3 linked regions of the Homo sapiens genome follow. The protein of the gene in region 2 interacts with the protein of the main gene of each other region in a pairwise test. Each region holds a gene or a part of one and is shown on either strand. Other genes may lie near its edges.

Region 1 (3,655 bases), on a different chromosome or scaffold from region 2:
AAGTTATTTCCTTGCTTTGTTGTTTTGTTGTTTTATGAATATTGCTCTTTTTTTCTTTTCATACAATACAGGTTGGGTGTCCTTAATCCAAAAATCCAAAATCTGATATACTCCAAAATCCAAAACTTTTTGAACACTAATAATAATGTTCAGAAGAAATGTTCACTGGAGCATATAGGATTTTGAATTTTTGGATTAGGGATACCGAACCAGTAATGAAAATATTCCAAAATCTAAAATATCTCTGGTTCCAAACACTTAAGATAAGGGATCCTCAATCTGTATAAGCTCTTAAGTAACAAGGACCACATTGTATATTTCTATTATGTCTTTTCACTCTTCTCCCAAAAGTACACTCTTATCACATATATGCAAATAGTAGAATTTTTTTTTTATGTTTTGAATGAAACGTTGAGACCCAAGACTATAATTGTTTGACCTGCTACACCTTTAGTACCCTTAAAAGTTTCATCATAATGATTTTGTTGCTGGAAGTTAATAAAGCCTGTGTGTGTGTATATTCTTTGCTTTCCCTTTGTTCTTCTTGTATGTAATAGAAGGTAAAGAAGCAAAGAAAGAAGTGGGAAGAAAGCCAAGAAAAATCTTAACATCTTGTGCCATTCCTTTTTCTTATTTTCTGCCTTAATTTGCCAAACTCTTAAGAATCAAGACCCCCTAGGACTCTATTTGGAAAAGAAACAAATGATATTTGGCTCTAGTTTTTATGTAACAATCTTAGTTTTTACTCTTTTGCAGGACAAGATTAAACATTTAGAAGAAAAACTTAAGGAAGAAGAACATCAGCGTAAGCTATTTCAAGACAAAGCTTCTGAGGTAAATATAGCACTATATAATCTATCACAGTAAACCATATATGTTTTATTATATTTTTATTTTCATTAACTGAAGCCTATGTTCTAGATTCTAATTTCTGCTTCCTAAATTGTCTTTTCGTTACAATAATGAAATTCTCAGTCAGCCAGTATGATACATGGATGTATTACCAAGAGGTCTTTTTTAATCTTTTGAAATTCTGACAAATACATATATTCTCAGTTGAAGGAACTCCTAGGATAGATTGTTTTCAGTTTGATTTCTGTACATATATTAAATAATTTATTCTTTTATAAACAGAAAATTATTGTAATTACCAATAGACTTAGTGACCTTCACATGTACAAAAACGGTATCTTGGATTTTCTTTTCTTTTCTTCTCCAAAAAGCATTTTTATATTTATAAACTTAGACCTGATATCTCATTACAGTGTTTTTGCATGTTACAAATCAATGTTATAACCTTTTTTTTAAATATTACAGCTTCAAACTGGACTTGAAATCAGTAAAATTATAATGTCTTCAGTTTCAAATCTAAAGCACTCCAAGGAAAAGAAGAAATCTTCAAAGGTGTGCATATAAAATTTTTTCCCAAACAAAAATACTGCTAATACTTATTTATATAACCTCTTAATCCTTATACCTACCCCTTTCCAAAAAGGATTTGAAGATATAAAATAAAAGACATGCAATAATGCGTGTCAAGTAATGGATGATGGTTTGGGGTATAAGGACAGAAAATTTCATAAGATTCAGGTTAAAAAAAGTAGCAGCAGTCATGTACAAAATTTAGCTCTGAGTTTGCTTGACAACCAAAGCAAAAAGGAACATATAATGGACAGTATAGCTATCTTTGTGAAATAACAGGAAGCACTCCAGTTTTTCTAGAAAGATTAACATTTTTCTAGTTTTAAACTTCTGGAGAAACATATTTTGTGATAGTTTATAAAAGAGGCAGTAAACAACACAGTAGATACTGACAACATAATAAATCCTGAAAGCAGTTTTATGTAATATATAGACAATAAAAAATAAGGTTTTTCTTATAGACCTGTTAAGTCTGTAAAGTCATTTATATAGGGAATTTATTGTTATATGTAATTTCTATGCTTATTTCTTGTGAATTTGCCCAAAAGTAAGGATTGGAGAGTTAGTACTTTATAGACCAATATTTTGTTTAGATGGATTGATGTTTTGAATGTATGCTATTCAAGTAACCCTTCTTAATTATATATAATGGTATGAAAAAAGTTTTTAATCCCTTTTAATCTTATGATTGTGGAATTATGGTTTTGATGGCCATTATTACTATTTATTCAGATATGAATGGAGTGAGTGTTCTCTGTGCCATTTGTTGTGGGGGACAGGAGATGCTATTTGGGAATTCTGGCCACTGCCATATGCTTAGCTTGTGGATAAAATAATGGAGAGAACAGTAAACTTAACTTTGGCTACTCTTTTATTACGTAAATAAAAATTAATGTTCAATACTTGGGCTGTATTTTTCATAATTTTTTCATTTTAAAGAATTTTCAAACTACAATAACGAACAATATTTCCCCAATATGACTTATTTTGGCTCTTTCCTTTCCTAAATATTTGTTTTGTGTCTTATTTGTGCAATGAGATTCACAGCTACAAAGCCAAATAGAAAAATCACTATAAGTAATTTGCCAGTGGAACACATACTGCCCAGTATGTATGTTTTATGGCATCCTTTCTCTGATGGGTTAATGGAACTTTTTTCAGTTTACCTATTTATTATAAAAATAGTGAAGGTACAGGGAGAAGATAAAAGAAATGAAGGAAAGAAAAGGTAACTACTGGAAGAGAAGAGAGTAATTAACAGCAGAATCATTTTATGGAAGTACTTAGTTCAAATCCCAAGTTCACGGGGTATGCAAATAATGATGTCTCTTTTTAAAGATGGAGGGAGTGCTAAAGTTGCTGAAAGTAGGATCAGATTTCAAGAAGCCTCTATGAGAGATCTGCTTCCCATCACACTGTTTCTCCATGTCCTGGACATAGTTCATTCAACTCTTACATCTTGATGTACATAGACTGGTATCTCTAGGTGATAAAAAGATAAGACAGGAATTTGTGAGAAACAGATAAATATATAAGTATAAAACAGTATAATAGAAGATTAATAGAGGTTTAAACAAAGTGTTGTGGTGCTGTGTAGACAAAGGAATATGTGAAAGGTAATTCAAGAGCAATATTAAAGGAAGCCTTGAAGAATTAAATATTGACAGACTGAGATGAGGAAAAATGTGTTATAGTCTGAGGGAATTGTTGGTTTTTCCAGGGACCTATAAGTAATAGTCCAGTAGTGGGGGTGAGATGGGATCATAATGAAAGTTAAAATGGAAAATATAGCTTGGGGTGAGCTAATGGCTGACCTTGAATGCCATGTTAAGAGTTTGAACTTTTATTCTATAAACAGGAACTATTGAAGGCTTCTGAGAAGAGTAGGGACATGATTAGAGTTGTAATTTTAGATGGTAACTGACAGCAGTAGGAGAGTTTTACAAGAGAGAAATCAGATGTGTAGATTTTTGAGAGAATCATATGTGTAGATTCATGTCACCATCACAATAATCAAGATACAGAACTCTTCCACCACTAAAAAACTCCTTCATGCAATCCCTCTATAGCTACACATCCCCTTCCCTGAACATTGGCAACCTCTAATCTGTTCACCATCTGTGTATTTTATTATTTCAAGAATGTTATATAAATGGAATTATGCAGTATGTAACTTTTTGTGGTTGGCTTTTTTCCCTTGAGGTCCGTCCAAGTTGTCGTATGTATCAGTACA
Region 2 (3,755 bases):
CCATTCATAAGCAGTCCTTAGAGGAAAAAAAAAGGGGAGTTCAAGTTTGAAGGAAAAAAATACAAATTGGGAACCTCATGGTTTGAAATTTGAAACAAACAAAAACATTTATTGCTCTTAGGTTGGTTGGTCCTACAAATCTTGATCAATGTTTAATGCAATCTAAAAGCAAAACAAAAAGTAAATATTCCTTAATACAATTAGAACTGTGAAAAGGCACAAGCCAAAGAAATAAACTTTAGGTAACTTCTATGTGACTACATGAATGAAACTTTTTGGGAGTTTCAGATGATTTCAAATGATACTCAAATTGAATATAACCATAAATTATGTTCTCAAAGTAGTTATTGTTCCATCCTTTCTTCTACTTCTCTTACTATGCATTCTCATCCTTCTTGTAGGCTCCTCTTCCTGTGGCCATCCCTTCAATGTTAGAATTGCTAATGGTTCCTCCCTGAGCCCCCAGGCCTTCACACACTGCACTCTCTCCTAGGTACCTTACTCAATCCCCTTGCTTCATTCAGCACATATGCCCATGACTGCTGAATTTATATCTCCGGCCTGGGCCCCTTCCTAACATCAACTGTTCTTGGCTGTTTTCACCTGCATATCTCAGAGCCACCTGAGAGTCAACATCTCTGCAACTGAAGCCATCATTTTTTAAAAACCTGCTTCCTCTTATGTTCATCAACTCATCAAATGTTAACACTCTTAACTCAGTAGCCCAAGGAAGACATTTAGGCTTCATCCTGACCCTGCCCCGCACTGATCCTGTAAGCCAATCTTAAATCCACTCAGTTCCCTCCATCTCTGCTGTCTAACCCTAGTCATCTTACATCTGGATCAGTGCAATAACTTCCTAAGTGGTCTCCCTTTTTCCACTCCTGCTCCACACCAATCCTCTCTCCACCTTATAAAAACACAGATTGAATCTTTAAGTCCTTTCAATAACTCCTACTGCACTTAAGTCCAAAATCCCTAAGGCAACATACAAGACCCAGTGTGCTCTGCCTTTATCCACCTCTCCAGCTTAAAATCACACCATTTTCCTAGCTCCATGGACGTTAGCCATTAATACTGGATGACTTCAGTCCCTTGAAAGCATTTTGCTGTCTCTTTCCTCTGGGCTCATCTCAGGCTAATTCCTTGAACTTCACCTCCTGAGGAAGACTTGTCCAGCCCAGGTCAGGTCTCTCCCTACTCTGTCCCTCAAAGAAGCTTCCCCATTGGCCCACGGCCCCCAAGGGCAGAAGCCCAATCCATTTTGTTCATTGGCATTTTCTAGCTCCCTGCATAGTGCCAAATCATAGCTGACCTTTAATAAAACTTTAAACAATTAGCACTGAGTCTGTGCAGCTCCATTTTCTGAACAGCTCTTGAAAACAACATTTACTTCAGGCCATCGACATCTTGTCCCCTAGATTACTACCTCCTAAGCCATCTCCTGACACCTACTTCTCCATTTTCTTCCCCACACTGTTACCAGATGGTCTTTGCAAAATGTAGCTCTCATCATATGAGTCTCCACTGCCTTCAGGATAAAATCTAAGCCTCTGAACAGAAATGACAAGTGCTTTCATGGTCTGGCCCCTGCTTTCTCCCTGGCCTCAGCTCTCACCCCTCCCTGCCTCACTCCCTCTACACGCTCTCCTATCTGGGTCTTCACACCTTCCATGCTCTCTGCCTGGAGCACTATCCTCAGCCTCCCATGCCACCAGTGAGTAGCAAATCATTAGCTTCCTTCCCTGACTGAGGTTCCTCAACTGTGCTGGCTGTCCCCCCTTGTCCGTGTACACCAATTAAAGTGACCAAAATGTACCCTTCTTCCAGGACAGTCCTGGCTTACATCTGCTGATCCGGCTCTCATTCTCAAAAGCATACTGGTTTGGACAATAAATTATGTGGTCCCACTAACCATGACTATTAAATGTTCATCTAATTGTCTGTTTCTCCCCTGACAATAAACTCCATAAGGTCAAAGCCATCTGCCTTATTCACCACAGCATCAGGCACAGTGCCTGGCATATGGAAGATGTGGCATGTTTCTTAAATAAACAAATGTACTTACATACTGGAGAAGCATGCATTCTCATTAAGGCATTAATTTGGTTCCAGGGTTTGCTACTGAGAACAAAAATCGTGCCCCCCACACCAAATTTAAAGATTATATATTTCACAAAATGATTTTAAAACATATTTTGAAGAGGTTTTGAAGTCACAGATACGGAGATATAGATAAGCCAGTGACACACTTCACAAAAGGGCAGAATGCCAATTAGGAATATAATCCGCAACCAGGGAACTGATTTTCTTTCTCTGAAGCAAAAGGCCTATTTGCCAACCAATCCTGGCCTAGCCTCATTTTCCCTAGGCTTTACCTAAGTAAAAAAAATCAAAAACAAAAACAAAAACGAGTTTTTTCACAAAACACACTGATACTGACATCAGAAAACATTGGTTCATCAAGTTCTTCCACTCTGCTCAAGTTAGGTGCTCCATAACGATCGCTGATTTCAGCTAGTGTTTTGCCTGAGTCTAGTGTTGCTTCCTACAATCAAAAAATTGATTTTTACTTTTAAATGATTTCAAAATTAATACATTACTTTTCTTTCAATTTTGATTAAAAATTTTCTGATTTATAACATTAAAATTCAACATTATTAATTAGTGGAATTAACCAATTTCTGTTAATGACAAGAGAATTCTGGTAATGAATTGAGTATCCTAGAATGCAAAGCTACAATTCTGGTAATAAATACTAGAACTTTTTTTAAAAATACCTGCAGAAATTTAAAATAATTGTAAGTAATTATGTGGTAAATAGCTTCAATATCTCAAGAGAGCCTAGTTTTTAAAAATCCAAACACAAACTGAATGTCCAATTTTTACCTATTGTGAGATTTTGCTTCAAAGCACATTATTTGTGACTTGTTATCACCGGAAAATATACATGGACTATCAGTTTTGATAATATACTTGCTAAAAATTTAGCTACTTATGCATCAAAATTAAGCTTTACATTCTAGGATACTCAATTCATTTCACATAACATAGAATGACTTTTTCTTCTCACCTCTGAATGTAGAATATCTTCATTCCTAACTAGATTTTCCATATTCATTCTCATCTCCTATAATATATAAAAATTAAGAAAATACTTTGAATATACTCCATTTTGATTTCATGTTTAATTTTTGGCATTTTTACTTTTACACAATGCTATGATGAATTTAAAGCAAAAATGCTGTCACTCTGAAAGAGAATGATCTGATTACACATTACAAAACTGCAGATCACAGTCTTATTTAATACTCTATACTAATAGAAGGCAACCATGTTTTATATATAATTAAATAAAAGTTTTTTAAAAATGAAATGGACTGAAACAGTCAAACTGAAGCCAAATTATCTGCCAATATAAAAAGTGACAAAATAAAAATTATAATAGAACCTTAGAACAAGAGATTTTTAAGGAGAAAACCACACTTAAGTAGAGTTTTGCACATACCGAGAAAGAAGTAAACACTTCTACAGGAACTAATCTGGCCCAATGCACAAGTCCTCCCACAGGACCTGAGCAATGCCCTCTTTAATACTCTGAGCACTGCAGTAGGAATATACTGCCCAATAAGGGAGGCCTCTTTCTGAATGTGAAACATTCTTCTAGTCAGCCAAACCTTGCTATGCCATCTACCTTTTCATTCTAAAGCAGCAGGGTGGCCTAACTGACCCTGAGCTGATTCGTTTTGGCTGCT
Region 3 (3,655 bases), on a different chromosome or scaffold from region 2:
TCCTCACAAGGGATTTCACCATCTCAATATTTTGTTTCATTTTTATTCTCTTAGTCAATGAATACCAGGCAATCAATTCTTGAAAGGTGTTAACTAACAATGAAGCTGTTGGGTTGTGAGATCAAGACAAAGGGGCAAGAAGGCCACAGAAATGAGAAAGAGAGCAGGGCTGAAACCACAGTGAGTGCCAGAGACTCTAGAGCACAGTGCTTGTCTGTCCTGGGTAGGCAGGTGCCAGTCAGCAGATGACTGCCATCATAGTTCCAGCTATGCTATTAGCAAGTTTTCTGATTTTTTAAAGAAAAATTCTAAGTGTGGATATTTTCAAAAGGAGTTATCTCTCGATTTTTAAGTGTTGGCAACTAATCAAATCTGTGCACAAAAAACCACAAAGGCTTGGGTCCTTTGGTTTACGATGTGACCTCTTCTGAGGAGGTATTAACATTTTATAAGAGATCTGCTTCCTTAGAGAAATTTGGAGACCTAGGGTGGTCTAAGAAAAATCACTTCTCCTTCTAGCCAAGACTGGCAGTCCCAACTCTGCTCTGGTGAAAGGTTTGGCCAAGCCACCATCTCCCCACCACAGTTGCTAGTTCCTTCAAGGAGGAACTGAAGGAACACTGACTCTCAACAGCTGTTGCCCGTTCCCAATATCATGGCTACATCACAATACTAGAGGGAAATAATTACTGTCATGGTGATAAGAATTTTAAGTGTACATTTCTAAGATGTTTTTAGTTAGCTAGTGAAAATACAATTCAAAAATATAAGCCATTTATATGGGAATATTGACTTTCAGTAATATTCATTTATACTTTTGCATGTAACTGTTCTTTAAGTTACTCTTTAAAATAACAATTAACTTTTTTTTTCTTTCTTTTTTGAGATGGAGTCTCACTCTATCGCTCGAGCTGAAGTGCAGTGTCGCGATCTCCGCTCACTGCAACCTCTGTCTCCTGGGTTCAAGCAATTCTCCCACCTCAGCCTCCCCAGTAGCTGAGACTACAGGTACCTGCCACCACACCCGGCTAATTTTGTAGTTTTAGTAGAGGCAGGGTTTCGCCATGTTGGCCAGGCTGGTCTTGAACTCCTGACCTCAAGTGATCCACCCCCCACTTGGCCTCCCAAAGTGCTGAGATTGCAGGCTTGAGTCACTGGGCCCCTGCCTGCTTAACTTAATACTAAATAACATATGAGAGAGTACAATGAAACAACTTAGGAAGTTTTTTCTTTTAGTTTTCTTCATTTCTCTAGTAAGCCAGTATATCTCCAGCCAAACAATTCACTGTGTTTTTTTAGAAAAAGTCACAGATGGAAACAAAGTTACCTGAATGTGGAGTCTCTGTAGAAATGGCAAACCACATTTTCACTCTCCTTGACTTCTTGAAAAAAGTCTCTTTCACTAGGGATTTCTCTGTATTCCCCATGTCCTTTAGAAAGCCATTCCTAATTTGGAGAGAGGCAAAACATTACACATGTGAGATATCTCTTTCAGAACCACTTGACATTTTAAGTGTCCAAATCACCATCGTATTTTGTAATGAAGTCAATTAAAAAAAAAAGTTTTTTTTTTGTTTGTTTTTGTTTTTTTTTTTTGAGACGGAGTCTTGCTCTGTCACCAGGCTGGAGGGCAGTGGCGCGATCTTGGCTCACTGCAACCTCCGCCTCCTGGGTTCAAGCAATTCTCCTGCTTCAGCCTCCCGAGTAGCTGGGACTACAGGCGGGCACCAGTATGTCCAGCTACTTTTTGTATTTTTAGCAGAGATGGGTTTTCACCATGTTGGCCAGGATGGTCTCGATCTCTTGACCTTGTGATCCGCCTGCCTCGGCTTCCCAAAGTGCTGGGATTATAGGTGTGAGCCACCGCGCCCGGCCCAAAAGTGTTATTTATTTATTTTTTTTTTGAGAATGGGTCTTGCTAAAGTTGCCCAGGATGGAGTGTGGTGGCATGATCATAGCTCACTGCAGCCTCAAACCTCCTGGGCTCAAGAGATCCTCCTACGTCAGTCTCCCAAGGAATTGGGACCACTGGCGCATGCCACACCACGCCTGGCATTTTTTTTTTTTTTTTTTGGTAGAGACGGGGTTTTTACTATATCGCCCAGGCTGGTGTCAAACTCCTCGGTTCAAGCAATCCTCCCACCTTGTCCTCCAAAAGTGCTGGGGTTATAGGCATGAGCCACTGTGCCTGGCTGAAGTCAAAGAAAAATGAATGTTTTTTAGCAATTTACTTTCCTGTTTCTACTGTCAATGCAAAACTAGTCTACGGACAGTGAACGTCTCCACAGCATGGCCTGGGTTCAAGACAATTACCTGTCTTTGTAGCTTAAAACATCTATTTTCTCAGAACTTTCAAAATAAAAATTTAGACTTGAGAGACTCAGAATGTAAATATCCACTTAACTCTATCCATGTACTCTTAAACTACTAAAACCAGAAGCATTTGATCCAAGTTACTACAAGTCTTTTAAAAATAATGCTCATGAGGCTGGGTGCAGTGGCTGATGCCTGTAATCCCAGCACCTTGGGAGGCTGAGGCGGCTGGATCACCTGAGGTCAGGAGTTCCAGACTAGCCTCGCCAACATGGTGAAACCCCGTCTCTACTTAAAAAAAAAAAAAAAATACAAGAAATTACCTAGCTGTGGTGGTAGGCGCCTGTAATCCCAGCTACTTGGGAGGCTGAGGCAGGAGAATTGCTTGAACCCAGGAGGCAGAGGTTGCAGTGAGCTGAGATCACGCCACTGCCTGGGCAACAGAGTGAGACTCTGTCTCAAAAATAAATAAAAATAAAAATAATGCTTATGAGATAAACCCAATTCGTCTTGGGGAGAAAAGGAGGATACTGCAGCTCTGAAGCTCAAGAGCCCTGTCTGCTTTTGATAACCACTTTATAAATGCTTAAAAAGTCTCTATACCTGCACTAATTGTTAGAAAGGTCATCTCACACTGAACTGCAATATATCCATAATTCTGGTCTGTGGATTCCAGCTTGGATAAAGATTAAAGTTTTAATCTCTTTCCCACGTGGGCCCTTCAAACATCACATATTGCCTAAGTTTTCCCTTCTCCACACTGAACACTTCCAGTTCCTTTTAACTGTTCTCATATGAAAAGATTTCTAGAGTTCCTACTCTTCCAGGATATCAACTAAACACACTCTAATTCACCAATGTCTTCTTAAAATGTGACAGAGGTCTGAATCCAGCCTCCAGAAGGGGTCCAACCAAAGAGCCAGGAGGGCCATCTCCCTTCCTCCTCTGGACGTCAGTGAACGTGGCCCAGACTATATTGATGACTGCGGTGTCAAAATCACATCCATTTACATCGAGCTGACACTTGCAGGATACCCTGATATTTTCTTATGTGAAATTTCTACACACAGTTTAACTCTCAAATACAATTCCCTAATGACATATGACATTTCATGACTGCTTTCACAACTTACCAATGATATGTGCCCTTAAAAAGTATTTGTTAGGCTGGACGCAGTGGCTCACACCTGTAATCTCAGCACTTTGGGAGGCTGAGGCAGGTGGATCACTTGAGGACAGGAGTTTGAGAACAGCCTGGGCAACACGGCGAAACCCTGTCTCTACAAAAAATATGAAAATTAGCCAGGTGTGTTGGCACACACCTGTAATCCCAGCTCCTCGG

What was found.
Region 1: the proteins of DYDC1 (region 2) and CEP57L1 interact in binary tests that used the Homo sapiens proteins (3 or more experiments, as listed by UniProt).
Region 3: the proteins of DYDC1 (region 2) and TXNDC9 interact in binary tests that used the Homo sapiens proteins (3 or more experiments, as listed by UniProt).

The regions. Positions count from the first base shown.
Region 1 is NC_000006.12:109,154,474-109,158,128, forward strand, and holds part of CEP57L1 (centrosomal protein CEP57L1), read left to right. Parts: intron 1-756; coding exon 757-834; intron 835-1,317; coding exon 1,318-1,404; coding exon of another isoform or gene 1,405-1,416; exon of another isoform or gene 1,417-2,324; intron 2,325-3,655. UniProt on the Homo sapiens protein: Centrosomal protein which may be required for microtubule attachment to centrosomes.
Region 2 is NC_000010.11:80,336,024-80,339,778, forward strand, and holds the end of DYDC1 (DPY30 domain-containing protein 1), read right to left. Parts: intron 3,131-3,755; coding exon 3,074-3,130; intron 2,549-3,073; coding exon 2,444-2,548; coding exon of another isoform or gene 2,393-2,443; exon of another isoform or gene 163-2,392; coding exon 133-162; 3' UTR 82-132; downstream 1-81. UniProt on the Homo sapiens protein: Functions as part of axonemal radial spoke complexes that play an important part in the motility of sperm and cilia. Plays a crucial role during acrosome biogenesis.
Region 3 is NC_000002.12:99,326,208-99,329,862, forward strand, and holds part of TXNDC9 (thioredoxin domain-containing protein 9), read right to left. Parts: intron 1,447-3,655; coding exon 1,328-1,446; intron 1-1,327. UniProt on the Homo sapiens protein: Significantly diminishes the chaperonin TCP1 complex ATPase activity, thus negatively impacts protein folding, including that of actin or tubulin.